Homo sapiens: one gene and its partner. The protein of the gene in region 2 binds, or shares a complex with, the protein of the main gene of each other region. Each region holds a gene or a part of one and is shown on either strand. Other genes may lie near its edges. A codon is read from its position in the direction of its gene.

Region 1 (8,652 bases), on a different chromosome or scaffold from region 2:
TGGAGTGCAGTGGCGCGATCTTGGCTCATAGCAACCTCTGCCTCCCAGGTTCAAGCGATTCTCCTGCCTCAGCCTCCCAAGTAGCTGGGATTACAGGCGCCGCCCGCCACCCCGCCCAGCTAATTTTTGTATTTTTAGTAGAGACCGGGTTTCACCATGTTGGCCAGGCTGGTCTCCAACTCCTGACCTCAGGTGGTCCACCCACCTTGGCCTCCCAAAGTGCTGGGATTACAGGCGTGAGCCACCGCGCCCAGCCAAGGTATTTTCTAGTTTAGGAAAAGTTTGGGGATGGGGATGAGGGAACAGGCCATGAACTGCTGGATCAACTGGGGCAACTGCTTCCAGCCTCCCATAGTGGGGGTGTGAAAAGAGACTGGTGAGAAAGGCAGAGGAAACCCCTCCCCTACGGCCCCCTTCGATCCTCCTCCTCCTCCCCAGTCTCCCTCCCCACCCAGCCCCAGTAAGCCCTATTCTTGGCCCGGAGGTTACTCAGCAAACCCCAAAGGAAAGGCAGAGCCTTGGCTGGGGAAGACAGATAGGGAGGAAGACAGAGAGGAGGGAGAGGAAGGGTTGGAGGGTGATGCAGAGAGGGAGAGGCGGGGAGATGTCAGAGACGGAGACGAGGCAACAGGACCGTGGAGGAGAAAAATAGAAAGGGAGAGAAAATAGTCGGAGAGACAAAAACCAGGAGACCCATGCGTGGACAGAAAGACTAACGGAGACGAAAAGAAAGAGGCAGATGGGGAGACACGTGCGAGACGAGACACATGTGCATTTGTTGGGGAGAAGAGGATTGGAGGTGTCAGTGTTAAAGGAACCTCTACAACGAAGGTGAAGCCACGGAAGATAAGGTAAGGCTGAGACTTGGGTGCGGAGTGCGCGTCATTGGGCTGGAGCTGTAAACTGGCGCAGAAATGGGCAGGGAACCCGCAAGCCCACACCGCCCAAGAGTCAGTGAAACCTGAGGGATCTTCCCCAAGGCTCTGAACCACGCGGGACGCCTGGGTCCTCGCATGGATGCCGACGGGGCCGGCTGAGTGGGAGCCCCGCCCGTAGCTGGGGTGAGGAGGGCGGGAGGCGCCGCAGCCAGGAGGGCGGGGACCAGACCTGCCCCGTCTCGCCCCGGGCTCCGCGAGCGATCCCCGCCTCCGCCGGGGGCATGGGAAGGAAAGGGAAGGGAGGGGGATGAGGCCGCCGGACGCTGGGGTTTCCCCAGCCACCCTGAGAGGAACTGGGACTTTGGGGTCCAGACTGCCAGCGTTTAGCGCAGCGGGGTCCTCCTGCCCCTTGGTGGAAGCGCAGGCTCCTCCCCCCGCGCGTGGCACCCACGTGGGGCTTTCTCACTCCTCCCAGCTTGGTTTTCTCACCTCGGTCTTGTAGAGTCACCCCCCACCCAGCACTTCCCCTGCGGCTGGACTCCGCTCAGCCCATTCCCCTGCATCCTGCGGGGAATGCAGCGTGGATGGCGCTGGGTATCTCTCCTCCTCCCCGCTCACACCACCTTTCCCACGCCTGTCTCCCCTCTCGGTAAAGCCCTTCCCATGACCCAGGACTCTAGGTCTTCTGGAAGCTCGATTCCTCCGCTGGGCTCCCCACTCTGTCCCTCACGTCCCTGTGTGAAACACCGAGGACACCTCTGCATCCCGGGCGCCCTCCCGAGTCTCCGCTCCTCTCCCGCTTGCCTCCTCCTTCCAATAACCTCCCGTCCCTTTCTCCCCACATTTATCACACGCACCTCTGTTTCTCTTTCTACGACTCTCCCCCACCCCCGCATCCCGCGTGTTCCTGGCAGCCTCTGGAAGTGGGTCCGCTCTCACTTTCCTGGCACCCTCTGGGGTTGCCTTCATCTAGCTTTTCTGTCCTTCTTGAATCTTTCCACCTCAGGACCCCCAAGCTCTGGGTCAACTTTCTCCAGCGCCTCTCCTTTCCCAAATGCTGGGGTCTTCGCTTCTCCCACACCAGGCTCCCTTCTCTGCACCTGGCACCCCACGACCCCCCCCCCCATTCAACGCGTCCTGGAAGAGGGAGCCTTCTACCCTCCCCCTATTGCTTGTCTCCCTCTAGGGGACTGCCCCCACGACCCCGCATGTTTCTGTCGCACTCTAGAAGCGGTCCACTTCGCTATCTCCTCCTCTCCAAGACCAGACACCTGGGTGGTAGGGGGCTCAGTGCCATCCTCTTTCGGACACCCCCCTCCCACCATCACACGTTCCCTTTGCCCCGGGGTGTCCTCTTCCTCCAGCCAGTTTCTTCTGCCAGTCACTTCCTACCCGTGGCCCCGGCACTCCGGCGCCCCCTGGGGGCCCCCCTCCCGGCTCCCCTGCCCCTCCGAGCTCACCGTTGTGGGTTTCCACCATTAGCACGCGGGTGACCTCCTTGGCGTAGTAGTCGGCCTCAGGCTCGGGCTCCGGTTCTGCACTCTCCCCGGCCACCCGGTCGCGGGTGCTGTTGTACAGGGCGAGCACGGCCTCGGGCAGCGGGCCGGGCGGCACCTCCCCCTGGCTCGGGGGGCTGGCGAGCCGCAGCTTGGACAGGATCTGGCCGCGGATGGCCTCGATGCGCTTCCGCTTCACCAGCTCCATGTCGATAGTCTTGCAGGTGGATAGTCCCGCGGCCGGCCGGCCAGGCGTCAGCACCAGTAGCCACAGCAGCGGTAGCAGCAGCGGCAGCAGCCGCAGCCCGGAGGGCGGCATGGGGGAGGCGGCGCCCCCCGGCACTGCCGAGAGCGCGAACAGGGCTGGTGTGGTGGGGAGGCCCCGCCCCTGCAGGGGCTGGGGGTCTCCCGGCAAAAGGTAGGAGGGCCTCGAGGGAAAGCTGAGGTCCTCAGGGAGAAGGGCGCAGTGGTGGAGGGGAGGCTTGGACCGGGGGTGTCTCAGTATCCCACGGAAATAACCTAGATGGGCGCGATCTGGTACCAGAAGGTGGGTGGTCTTGAATAGGGGATCTGTGGCAGGTCGGAGAGAGATCCGTCTCCTGGAGGAGAAAGGGTCTAGGATGCGCGGGGGCTCAGGAGACAGGCCGGGGATGAAGGCGGCGTGCAGGGGGTGCGCCCGAGGTCTGGGGAAAAGTCTTTGCGGGAGGCCGGGTCGGCGACTCCCGAGGGCTGGTCCGGAATGGGGGCGCCTGAGGGACGCCGTGTAGGGGGCAGGGAGGGAGCAAGCGTCCCCGGCGGCAAAGGGAGGCGGTCTGGGGTCCCCAAGTCCTGCCTCCTCGCGGGGCAGCGTCGCGCCAAGAGGTCCCCGCGCCTCCGGCTCCCAGCGGCAACGGAAAAGTCTCAAAAGTTTTTTTCCTCTTCTCCCGACCAGCTCGTCCCTCCTCCCGCTCCTCCTCCCCCTCCTCCCCGCAGTGGCGGGGGCGGCGGCGGCTCGTCTCAGACTCTGGGGCCTCAGGCTGCTCCTCGGCGACTCCTTCCTCCGCTCCGGGCCGAGGCCGGCCCCGCGGGCGGCTCAGAGCCGGGGGGGTGCCCCGGACGGGGCGTCCCCCCTGCCCCCGGCCGGGGCCCTCGCTGTCTGGCTGCTCCGCGGAGGGAGGTGGGAGGGAGATGGCCCAGGGCGCGAAGGGCGGCGGCGGCGGGGACCGGCTGGGTCGGCAGGGGGTTTTGAAGCCGCCCCCGGCCCCACCCAGGAAGCGCACGGGGCGGGAGCGGGGGCGGCCCCCAGGGGGAGGGCATGGGGGGGCTGGGCCACCGTCCTCATCTCGCGTGGGCGGGCTCCGAGGGGGGTCCCTTCAGCCCTGGGGGAAAGGGGGCGGGCACCCCGGCTCCGCCCCGCAAACAGGGTGCTGCCTCCTGGCGGCCAAGCGCCACCAAAGCGGGTGATCCAGATGCGCTGTGGCTTTGCGGGCGGTGTGGGTCACCAGAGAAAGAGGACCAGGCGGAGAAGGCTTAATCCGGGGGATGAGACACAGGGGAGCCGACCAGAGGAGGGGGACCCAGAACGGAAGGAGAGTCAGGCTGGGAAACAAGGTAGGAGAAGAGGGTCTGTCAACATGGGGGCCTCCGGAGGGTGTCAGTGGGAGGAGGGGGCAACAGGACACCTGAAGGATGGAAGGGTCAGGAGGCAGACACCTGTAAGAATTGCTCTCCTTTACTGAGCACCTCCCATGTGGCTAAGCAGCCTCCTGTCACTCAACACCCTGCGACCCCATACATTTACTGTCCCCAATTTACAGATAGGGAAACTGGGCCCAGAGGGACCCCGAGGTCCTAGAAAGGACAGAAGCGGTGCCATGCCTTAGCTGGGGTCAGCTCTGACAGTCTCTAGAGTCTGTGCTCTTGACCACTGTGCCATCCTCCCCCATCACTGGGTGTCCGGGGTGTGGATGGTGGTGACGTTGGAGGCAGAGTCCCTCAGCACTCCACGCCGTAGCGGTCGAAGTTGCGGAGCAGCAGGCCGATCTCCAGGTGCACGGTGCCACCAGCAGCTGTGTGCAGGCGATAGCGGTCGGCCCCACTGTAGATGGTGTCCCCATGCAGCAGCTGCGGCCCACCACCCACGAAAGCCCGTGCCAACTGTTCTCGCCAACTGCCCAGGGGCCGCCACGTGGGGCAGGCCAGCTGGTGGGTGCCCGGGCTACTGGGCACATGGCAAAATCCATAGCCTGCAAGCTGGCAGCGGCCAAAGCTGTCCTGGGACCACACCTGGAAATGGAGCCGGGGCCAGCCTGCAGGAAAGGAGAGAGAGGGGAAAGGAGGGATGGGTGGGGACCAGACTCCTGCTGATTCCCCACTCCCTGATACTCACTGGAGACCCCAGGCCCAGTCTTTTCCTCTCTGGGTTTCTGTCCCAGAGTTTCCAACCCAGCCTCCTTTCTAGGCTCCCACCGTCTTATCTATCCCCACACAGCAGCCAAAGTGATCTTTCCAAATCCATGTTACTCCCCTGCTAAGGATCCTTCCATAGCTCCCCAGTGCCCTCAGTATAAAGTCCAACCTCTTCAACATTCAAGGCCCTTCTAATCAGACCTCTGCTGAATTTCCTCTCTGTGTTATCCTCCTCCATGACCCCATGTCAGGGCAGCCCATTGCTCCTCCAGTCCCCAGGTAACCATCATGGGCCTTGTCAGGGACACCTCCTGCCTTCCCTCATGTCCCTGCCCTGCTCTCTTTGGGCCCAGGGCCTTCTTTCTTGCCCCTCTCTAATCCACCTTCCACCTGGCATCTGGAAGCATCTTTCTCTCCTTCCATAGCTTTGCCCATGTCCTCAGAACACAGTTCAGCTCCTCAGTCTGGTAGTCAAAGCCCTTGGAGATCCAGCCCCATCTCATCTCATGCTGATCCCTTCTCCTGTGCTAGACTCTGTTCTAGCTAGCTGGGGACACGGCAGACATGAACATGGATGGCAGACAAAAATTCCTGCCCCCGTGAAGCTGATATCCTAGACAACGAATGTAGTAAATAAGCAAATTATAGGGTAGATCAGATGGTGGTAATTGCTGTGAGGGAAAACAGAGCTGGGTAGGGTGAGGGTGGGGATACCGCTTTAGCAAGAAGGGGATCAAGGAAGCTTCATTAAGAAGGTGACATTTGAGCAAATGCTAAAAGGAAGGAAGGGAGTAGGCCATGTGGCCATCTAGAGGAAGAGTGCTCCTAGCCAGAGGGAACAGCAAGTGCCAAGGCCCTGGGGGGGGACTGTCTGGTGGGGACAGTATGGCTGGAGCCCAGACGGAGTGTGCCTGGTGGGGACAGCATGGCTAGAGCAGAATGAGGTGGGGAGACGGGAAGGAGGTGCCAGCCTGGTTGTGGAGAGCCTTGTGATGCATGCTAAGACTATGGCTTTCACCCTGAGTGAGATGGGGACCATTGGAGGGTTCTGAGCAGAGCAGAGATGGGACCTGACTTAGGTGTTCACAGGGTCCCAGCTGCATGTGGGGTGCAGACCAGGGGGGTTGGGGAAGGGGACTCCAGAGACAAGATTCTTGTCATAGTCCATGTGAGAGAAGAACTTGGACAGATCAAGGTGCTGGGCGAGAAAAGGGTAAGAAGTGGGATTTAGGATGTATTTCAAAAGTAGAGGCAGTTTAAGATTTCCTGATGGACAAAATGGGGGCTTGAGAAAAGAGAAAGCAAGGCTGGTGCCACCACTGGGGGACTGGAGGCCCCAAGAGCTGAAAGGTTAGAGCTGCCCACCTCACCCACACAGCACCGGAAAGATTTTTTTTTTCCCCAGCTCCAGCTTAAAAGACAGAAAGATTATTTAAAAGTGAAATCTCAGCCAGGCGCGGTGGCTCATGCCTGTAATCCCAGCACTTTGGGAGGCCGAGGCAGGTGGATCACCTGAGGTCAGGAGTTCGAGACCAGCCTGACCACCTTGGTGAAACGCCATCTCTATTAAAAAAAAAAAAGGCAAAAATTAGCCAGATGTGGTGGCACGTGGCTGTAGTCCCAGCTACTCGTGAGGCTGAGGCAGGAGAATTGCTTGAACCTGGGAGGCAGAGGTTGCAGTGAGCTGAGATCTTGCCACTACACTCCAGCCTGGGCAACAGAGTGAAACTCTGTCTCCAAAAAAAAAAAGGTGAAATCTCACTTGTCCATTACCTGCTCTGGCTCCCAAGTGCCTTCAGGAGATGGCCTCAGCTCCTCAGCCTGGCACTCAAGGCCCTGCATGGCCTGTCCCCTTCTGCCTTTCCCCTCTGCCGTCCCGCTCTCCCTCAATCCACTAGATGCCCTTGGCTCACTTTCCCCTTTGAGTCTTCCACGTAGCTCCCTCTGCCTAGAACCTTCTTCTATCCCTCTGCCTTATTAGCTCCGCTGGCCCTTCACAGCAAAGTTCAGAAGCCCCCTCCTCCAGGAAGCCCTCTCTGACCTCCCTGACAGAGTCAGCCACTTCCTCTGGGCTCCCACAGCCTCTCCAAATCACCTATCTTAGTCCTGCCCACTCTGAGGTGCCACTGTCTGGAGAGAGGTGTGTCCCCCCATAGGACGGTGAACCCTGTGAGGACAAGGCTAAGGGACACTGCCTTGATCCTCAATGTCTCCCTGGCATCACCCAACACAGGCTGGACACAGGGCAGGTACCAGGTAGACGTTCTTTATATTGGTGAAATATATGGCACATTTACCTAGGCAATTTCTCAGAATCAACTCATCTCCAGGAACCCACATTTTCTACTAGAAAGGCTTTCTGATGCCGCTCCTCCCCCAGTACTGATTTCCCCTTTGAGCAGCAGCTCTACTTTCAAGCCGAGGAGCCCTTCCTGGAGAAACAGCCCTTGCCTCTCTCAGACCCTGCCTCCCGGCTTCCTCTTTATTGGAGACTCTCGTTTTGTCTCTTTACTTGAATGCCACCTCCCCTCCCACCCTGACCCCCCACCTTCCCACCTCCTGCTCCACCCTGGCCTCTGCCCTAATCATACAAACTTGGGATCGCCTATTGAGCAGGCCTGGGAAGGCCTTAGCTCAGCCTCTCCAGGGCCAGACTTGGCTGCAAAAGGGACCTACGTGGTATGGGGAGCAGGGACAGGTCTTGGTGTTCCCAGCCCCAGGGACCTCAGAGGCTACTGGCCCCCTCCCCTCAGCCTGGACCCGGGTCCAGGTGTGATACCCACCTTGAAGACCTTTGGTGGCGAAGTGCAGGTCGATGGGGTGGGACCAGTAAGCCATGTCCCCTATCTGCGGGGTGTCCACTTGCGTTTGGCCCTCCCGCACGCCTGACAGGAGCTTCCATGCCGCCCCTGCAGTGAGAGCCGGGACATAGAGGGGTGGGAGGCAGCCATCGGGAAGGGGATGCCGCTGTGGCTATAGGACTGTTTCTCTGTGGCATCTACTGGTAGGGGTTACGAAGCATGGACTCTGGAACCAAGTATCTGGGTTCAAATCCTGGCACTACCTCTTCCTGCCTCTGCAACCTTGGGCAAGTTAGCTTTCTCTGCCTTGGTCTCCCCATCTATAAAATGAGCTGAGTAATAATGCATTCCTCATTGTCTTCATTTGTTTTCTGTTACTCTTAACATAATATCCAAAACTGGATAATTTATAAAGAAAAGGAATTTCTATCTCACAGTTATAGGAGACTGACCAAGGTGGAGGAGCCCCATCTAGTAAGAGCCTTCTTGCTGGAACTCTTCAGAGAGTCCCAAGGCTAGTGTGCTAACATGCCACTCACGTCTCTCTCTCTCATTTTATAAAGCCACCACTTCCTCTCCCATGATAACCCACTAATCCATTAACCCATTAATCCATGAATGGGTAATGAGCATAGTGAGCACGGGATAAGTCTTCAATATCATTTTATTACGATTCTCACCCCATATTTTCAAGCCTAGTCCAAGGATTAAGATGGGGCCAAGGGTACCCTCCAGGAGCGCATCCTGAAACACACATAACAATTTCGATCCTACTGAGGGGTGATAATGATAGCTAAAATGCACTGAGTGGTAGGATACAGTGGCTCACACCTGTAATCTCAGCACTTTGGGAGGCCAAGGCAGGTAGATCCCTTGAGTCCAGGAGTTCAAGACCAGCCTGACCAACATGGCAAAACCCCATCTCTACAAATAATATAAAAATTAAGGCTGAGCGCAGTGGCTCACACCTCTAATCCCAGCACTTTAGGAGGCTTAGGGGGGGGTGGATCATCTAAGGTCAGGAGTTCAAGACCAGCCTGGCCAACATGGCAAAACCTCGTCTCTACTAAAAATACAAAAATTAGTCTG
Region 2 (7,328 bases):
AGCCGTCAGTGCACCAGCCACAGATAGATGCATTTGTCTAATTAGCTAGTGTTCACATTAGGAAACAGCAGGACCCCAGAGAAGGGTTTTGTTGATGGGGAGAGGAAATCAGGAGAGTCTGGTCTGATGTTGCGTTGGCTGATGGGACTTGCCCGGAAGGCTTCAAGGCAACCTGAGAGACATCCACGACACTAGGCTGGGCGCAGTGCAGGAGGGAACGGTGGGGTCATAGCAAGGGCAAAGCCCAACAGGACCTGCCGCTAACGCTACTGAATGTGGGGCCTGAGATGGCAAAGCCTAACAGGACCTGCCGCTAACGCTACTGAATGTGGGGCCTGAGATGGCCTTGTTCAAACCTCTGTAGAGCATCCAAGGGAAGTTTCTGCTGTGTCAGAGTAAGACCACTGATTTTATCTCTTTGATTTGCCTAAATATTTCTGCTGACAGTTAGTCTGCATGGTAATAGCTATCAGTTTGTGGGATTTCTAGCCTCTCTCCCTCCCCATCCCTCCCCCATTGCGTTTAATTCCTTTATGATTTAGTAAGCAGGGATTAAAAACTTTGAGGACAGTGTAAATTCTAAACTACCAGAGGACGGGGGCTGTGTCCTTGTTATCTTTTCTCTCAGAGAGGAGCACAGACATTGTTCGTTAGTCATTGAACAGAGGGAGAAGGGAAGCTAAGAATCTAGTGAATACAGATACTGAACATCTGCTATGAAGTTGTAAGCAATTTTTTGTGAAGAGTTAGGAGGGTTCACAAGTGAGCAGAATTCATTCCTTTCTGCATTCCTCTTTACTTCCCTTCAGAACGAGGACTGTCTCTGGCAGTCGGCTTACTGACTGGATAAACTCGGGGCCAGTTATTATTCTCTTGGTTTCTCCATGGAAGAGTCATGTCTGTCTGCCAGAGACTCCGGGTATGAAGCCAGGGCACCTGGAGAGGGCCCAGCTAGAGGTCCATTATTTTATTTATTTGTTTATTTTTTGAGACGGGGTCTTGCTCCATCGCCCAGGCTGGGGTGCAGTGGTGTGATCTCGGTTCACTGCAACCTCCGCCTCCTGGGTTCAAGCAATTCTCCTGTCTCAGCCTCCCAAGTAGCTGGGATTACAGGCGCCCGCCACCACACCCGGCTAATTTCTGTATTTTTAGTAGAGACGGGGTTTCACCATGTTCGCCAAGCTGGTCTCGAACTCCTGACCTCAGGTGACCCGCCTCAGCCTCCCAAAGTGCTAGGATCACAGGACCGTTCTGACGGCGGTGGCCAGTCACGCAGCAGGTGAGAGGCCTCATCTTATGATCTTATGTCAGACCCTCCAGCTGTGCTTTGAAATGCTTTGTTGTCGTCGTCCTGCTATGAAATCCTTGTGTCGTCGTCCTGCTATGAAATCCTTGTCCCTGTTGAGTCCCCAGGGCACTGACTCACCATCTCTAGCACCTGCTCTTGGAGTTCTTTTTCCAGTAGGTTGCATTGAATTGCTACCCTCGGCTCCATGGATGTCACCAAGGGGAGGACACTACAAAATAATCCAAGGGAAACCAAGGAACAATAAAAAAAAACACAAGCTGCATTTAATTTAAAAAATATTTATGAGACACGTTGCCTTTTATTTCTGAAAAAGTCACTTAATAAATATTTTACCAAGATAATGAGGATGAATTATAATGATGGAAAAAGAACTTGGGCGGTGGTGGGGGCGGGGGTGGGGTGGGCGATGAGGAATGGAAACATATTAAATTTTAATTGAAACTTCAATTCGTCAGACTTGGCCTCTGCATCACATCTTGAAAGCTGGCAGAGAAAGTGTCCTGTTGTGTGCGGACCGAATTTCGAGTCTTGGCACACAGCCAGGTCAGTAAACGGAGGACCAGTGGCAGCGGCTCTTGATGACCTGAAGCAGAGGCTTCTTAAAAGTGAGGACGATGACAGTGCAGGCCACCAGCAGGGTGAGGCAGCTGGGGAGGATGAGCACGAGGTAGAGCAGGCCCAGGTCCAGCCGCTCCCACTTGCAGTCCCGAGGCACACCTCCGGGCAGCTCCGTCACGCGGATGATCTTGGAGGAGAGGTTGCAGGTGACCATGGCCCAGTCGGCCACCGTCTGCCCATGCTGCAGGGCCCCCCAGCCATCCACCCCACAGCAGTCATATGGATTCTGACTGAGGTAGATGGTCCGCAGACCTCTCGAGAGCTGCTCAGACACAGCCTTCTGGGGAAGGGCTGTGAGCGAGTTTCTACGGAGATCCAGGGTCTCCAGGGCCAGGCTGCCCCCAAACCTTGGGAAGGTGGTCAAGCAATTCCCCGACAGATCTAAGTCCCTGAGATTCCCAAACCCAGAGAAGTCCAACGCCATAAAGCTGGAGTGGAGGCCCATGTTCCTGAGAGACAGGACCTGTAACATGGGGGCAACATCCTGGAGTGGGGCGAGGCTCCCATTCAGAACCCCCCAGTTGCTTGAGAGGTCTAAGTAGGTCAGGGAGGTCCCTTGGAATGGGCAGTCTGGCAATGCCCCCAGGCCACAGCCCTCCAGAGACAGGCTCCTTAAAGATGCCATATTCCTGAAATCCACACAGCTAGGGGGGCCCACCCGGTCCGAGGCAGCTGGCAGGGGACAAAGTGAGATCTGATTGTGGCTCATGTCAAGTGTAGTGATGTTCCTAGCATTGGCGAAGAGGCCAGGGGGGACGCCCAGGAGCTGGTTGGAGCTCAGGTTGAACAAGCGCAGGCTGCCCAGGCAGCTGGCCAGCCCCGGAGCCAGGTGCAGCTCCGACAGCTGGTTGTGGCTCAGGTCCAGCTCGGTGAGCGCTCCGGGGGGCTCGTGCTCCCGAATGTGAAGCGTCATCAGGCAATTCTGGTGGAGGTTCAGGTGGGAGAGGGAAGGCATTTTCCTCAGGAAGCCGTCTGGCAGGTACTGGAACTGGTTCTGGCTCATGTCCAGGAAGCGGAGATCTGCGAGGTCGCTGGAGGAGAATTCTTCCCAGAGGCTGACGGTGGTGATGTTGGTCACGTTGCCGTCCACGAGGAGGAACTGGGCCACCATCTCCCTCGGCGACGAGGTGTTGTACAGGTCCCGGTAGAAGCCCATGTTGTTGTCGCGCAGCAGGAGGGTCCGCAACTTGCTGTACTGGGGCAGCAGCGGGAAGAACAGCAGCTGGTTGTGAGACAGGTCCAGCGTCTCCAGCTCGAAGGCAGCCTCTCCCCCGGTCGCGAGGAACCACTCCAGGACGTTGTAGCTGACGTTGAGGACCCGCAGCCGCGTGAGCCCGAAGTCCACGATGCAGGGGAGGTTGTTGAAGGCCAGGTTGAGGTGCCTCAGCTCAGCCAGGCCGTCGAAAGCGCCGCCCTCGATCTCGAAGATGTAGTTCCTCTGCAGATCCAGCTCCCGGAGACGCTCCAGGCCCTCGAAGACGGAGTCGTCCAGCCGCATGATGGTGTTCCCCGCCAGGGACACGGACCGCAGCGAGGAGAGGTTCTGGAGCATGAGGGCTGCCATGTCCTCCGTCAGGGCGTTTCCTGACAAGTCCAGCCTCCGCAGGCCCGGCAGGGCGTGGAGGGCGGCTGCCGTCTCTTCGTAGTTCTCTGAGAGGCAGTTGTCCCCCAGGACCAGGCTGCGCAGGTGACCTTGCTCCTGGAAGGCGCCGCGGCTGATGCGCTCCAGGTGGCAGCTGTGCAGGCTGAGGCTCTCCAGGAGAGGGTAAGGCTGGAGGGAGTGATTCCACAGGGTCTTGAGAGGGTTGGCATCCAGGGTGAGCATCCGGGCGTGGGGCGGGAGGCTGCTGGGCACCGAAGCGAGGCTCTGCCCTCGGCAGTCAGCGGCTCCACCCACCTGCGGCCAAAACCACACCGGTCAGCAGCGAGGAGGCCCAGAGGCAAGCATTTATGCATAGAAACTTAGTTCACTTATCAGACTGTCCCTGCAACCGCCGGGGATGGCTCTAGAGATGTTCATTTTAAAAATAGGATAGACAAGGCCGGGCACGGTGGTTCATGCCTGTAATCCCAGCACTTTGGGAGGCCGAGGCAGGTGGATCACTTGAGGTCAGGAGTTCAAAACCAGCCTGGCCAACATGGTGAGGTCCTGTCTCTACAGGAAATACAAAAAACTAGCCGGGTGTGGTGGTGGACACCTGTAATCCCAGCTACTCCGGAGGCTGAGGCAGAGAATTGCTTGAACCCAGGAGGCAGAGATTGCAGTGAGCCGAGACTGCACCACTGCACCACTGCACTCCAGCCTGGGCGACAGAGCAAGACTCCATCTCAAAAAAAAAAAAAAAAAAAAAAGGACTTGAGAGCTTTCACCATCCTGAATTGTACAGGGAAGTAAAGTGGGTCTGGAGGGGAGAAGTGAAGAGCCAGTGGCTGTGCCGGGACTGGAGCCCAGGGCTCTGAATGCCCAGTTCAGTGCTTTTCCTAAACAGGGCTCTACTCTGATCATGCAGAATAAGGAGGCGGGAGGGACGAGGCCACCCTGGTCGCACTGCAGAAAGCACACGTGCAGGATACTTTAATTCACCCCACGCTTTGCAAAATTGGCAAAAACAACCATCAGCCATAGGATGTTATTTAGGTGTCTAGGACAAAAATGGTTTTTTTGTTTTTTGTTTTTTTGAGATGAAGTCTTACCCTGTCACCCAGGCTGGAGTGCAATGGTGTGATCTCAGCTCACTGCAATCTCTGCCTCCTGGGTTCGAGCAATTCTCCTGTTTCAGCCTCCCGAGTAGCTGGGATTACAGGCACATGCCACCACGCCCAGCTAACTTTTTTTGTATTTTTAGTAGAGACGGGGTTTCACCATGTTGACCAGGCTGGTCTCGAACTCCTGACTTCAGGTGATCTGCCTGCCTCGGCCTCCCAAAAGTGCTGGGATTACAGGCGTGAGCCACCGTGCCCGGCCAGAAAGAAGTTTTAAGTGATAAGATAGAGGAGCAATGGCATTCGTTTGCACAAGTTTATCAGTAATACAAGGGCAGTGGTTGCCTACAATTGTGGGTTCAATCCCAGAGGGCAAGTGCAGCACGGCAACAGAAGAGGAAAATCCCGAGAGAGAGGTTAGAAGAAGCACAGGTTTGGAGGACAGACTCAATCTGAATCTCGGCTCTACCACCACTAGCAGTGGAATTTCTTGGCCCCTCGGGTTCTTTATCTGATAATTAAAATAAAACCTTCCAATAATTAAACATTGATACTGTATTGACATATGGAAACCTCAACTCTTCTGTCACCTCCGCCTCTCTCTCAGAGAAACACCAGTCACCTTCTGTTCCATGTCTTTCTGGATCTTTCGTAAGATATTACCTACCTTTGTCTAAAAAACAAAAATAAGACCATACTGTGCAAACTGTTCAGTAACCTATTTTTCTCCCCCTGTCAATAAAGTATGACGGACTTATTGCCTTGGCAGTACAAATAAATGTGATCATAATCTTTTTAGGAAGCATATGCATTCATCTCATGAATAGCACAGTGGCTGAGAGCAAGAGTTCCAGGGCCAATGCTTCGTGGCTCTGCTTTTGATCAAATGGGTGACCTTTGGATGGTTACGGAACCGAAAGAGACCTCCATTACCCTGCCTGTAAAACCGAAATTATACTCGTCATTTTCGCATAGCGTTTTTTTTCAGGATCAAGTGTGACTGTTGAGGTGAAACACATTTACTGTGCTTAATAAATGTGAGCTATAATTATTAGGATGATCTAATTAATCATCTCCTATTGTTGAGCATTTGGGTTTCTCTAATTTCCAGACGAACGTTAGAAAGGATTTGCCAAGTTCTTTCCACATCCCCCTTCCCTCTTTGGTATTTTGATTGGGATTGCATTATAATTACAAAGTACTCTGGAAGAGAATTTTTATCTTTTTTTTTTTTTTTTGAGACAGAGTCTCACTCTTGTCGTCCAGGCTGGAGTGCAATGGCGCCATCTCTGCTTGCTGCAACCTCTGCCTGCCGGGTTCAAGCGATTCTGCTGCCTTAGCCTCCCACGTAGCTGGGATTACAGACTCACACCACCACACCGGGCTAATTTTGTATTTTTAGTAGAGGCAGAGTTTTGCCATGTTGGCCACCCTGACCTCGGGTGATCCACCTGCCTTGGCCTCCCCAAGTGCTGGGATTACAGGTGTGAGCCACCGCGCCCGGCCAGGTGTGTGTCTTTATGTGAGTGGGTGTTGCGCTCCTCCCTGCGTGTGGACTCACTGGAGAATGTTGTGGTCAGGGGCTTTCTTCACGCTATGGGGTGCTGTTCCACCACAGCTGCTGCAGTCGTGGGTCACACCTCTGCAATTCCCTGTGGCCCCGCTGAAGTGATGTAGAAGGACCATATGGCCATCCCAGAAAAGCTTACCATGTCCACTTTCTTTTTCTTTTTTTTTTTTTTGATACGGAGTCTTGCTCTGTCGCCCAGGCTGGAGTGCAGTGGCGCGATCTCAGCTCACTGCAACCTCGGCCTCCCTGGTTCAAGCGATTCGCCTGCCTCAGCCTCCTGAGTAGCTGAGATCACAGGTGCCCGTCACCATGCCTGGCTAATTTTTGTATTTTTAGTAGAGACGGGCTTTCACCATGTTGGTCAGGCTGGTCTCAAACTCCTGACCTCAGGTGATCTGCCTGCTTCGGCCTCCCAAAGTGCTGAGATTACAGGCGGGAGCCACCGCACCTGGCCAACGTCCACTTTCTAATAAGGTCAAATGGATAATGTGATGAGGGCCAGTGGAGGGCACCCAGACTCTCCAATTCTCAGTCCTCAACTCGGAAGAGCCACAGGAAACCCACTCTTTGGGCTTCCTGGCAGCCAATTCTCTACTCCTGCCCACTGGGCCAGAAAGTGTCAAGCAGAGGGCCTTGCCTGAACTCTGAAAGGCTGTTCATTTATCTCTCCTCTTCCTGTGCCTGGTAACCCCTGAATAACTACTGTGTAGTTAATCCTTTATTGCCTCTGTAAGAGAATGCTGGAGGTCAAACATAGCAGAGATTAATAATAATATGAGTGATAACGGATAAAACGCGTAGCACTGACTACCTACCAGGCACTGTCCTGAGTGCTTTACATGTATTAACCCATTTAATCATCAGTCAACACAGCATGATGTTATTGGTAGATATTATTATTACGTATATATTCTACAGATGGAGAAACTATGACCTAGAGTGACCCCAATGTCACCAGCTAAGGGTGGGGCTGGGTTTAAACCAGGCCAGTCTAGCTTGTAACCTCTATGTCATATTGGAATAGACTCTAGCACAGTGGTTATAGGTTCCTACTAAAAGAGGTTAAAAACCATGACAGCTATGCTTTAAGAATACATACTTGAATGTAAGTGTTAGCCCTGACATCCA

The links.
Region 1: the proteins of NRROS (region 2) and TGFB1 are in contact, whole or in part, in a cryo-EM structure (PDB 7Y1R), measured with the Homo sapiens proteins. Residues at the interface, in NP_940967.1 of Homo sapiens: Phe194 (codon at 3,353), Glu195 (codon at 3,350), Ile196 (codon at 3,347), Glu197 (codon at 3,344), Gly198 (codon at 3,341), Gly199 (codon at 3,338), Phe201 (codon at 3,332), Leu210 (codon at 3,305), Leu212 (codon at 3,299), Pro218 (codon at 3,281), Cys219 (codon at 3,278), Ile220 (codon at 3,275), Val221 (codon at 3,272), Asp222 (codon at 3,269), Phe223 (codon at 3,266), Gly224 (codon at 3,263), Leu225 (codon at 3,260); in NP_000651.3 of Homo sapiens: Leu30 (codon at 2,606), Ser31 (codon at 2,603), Thr32 (codon at 2,600), Cys33 (codon at 2,597), Thr35 (codon at 2,591).

What each region holds. Positions count from the first base shown.
Region 1 is NC_000019.10:41,350,352-41,359,003, forward strand, and holds the start of TGFB1 (transforming growth factor beta-1 proprotein preproprotein), read right to left. Parts: upstream 3,572-8,652; 5' UTR 2,694-3,571; coding exon 2,339-2,693; intron 1-2,338. Other genes in the region: B9D2 (B9 domain-containing protein 2), read right to left, coding at 4,349-4,662, 7,546-7,671. UniProt on the Homo sapiens protein: Transforming growth factor beta-1 proprotein: Precursor of the Latency-associated peptide (LAP) and Transforming growth factor beta-1 (TGF-beta-1) chains, which constitute the regulatory and active subunit of TGF-beta-1, respectively.
Region 2 is NC_000003.12:196,656,248-196,663,575, reverse strand, and holds the end of NRROS (transforming growth factor beta activator LRRC33 precursor), read right to left. Parts: intron 3,825-7,328; coding exon 1,854-3,824; 3' UTR 1,572-1,853; downstream 1-1,571. UniProt on the Homo sapiens protein: Key regulator of transforming growth factor beta-1 (TGFB1) specifically required for microglia function in the nervous system.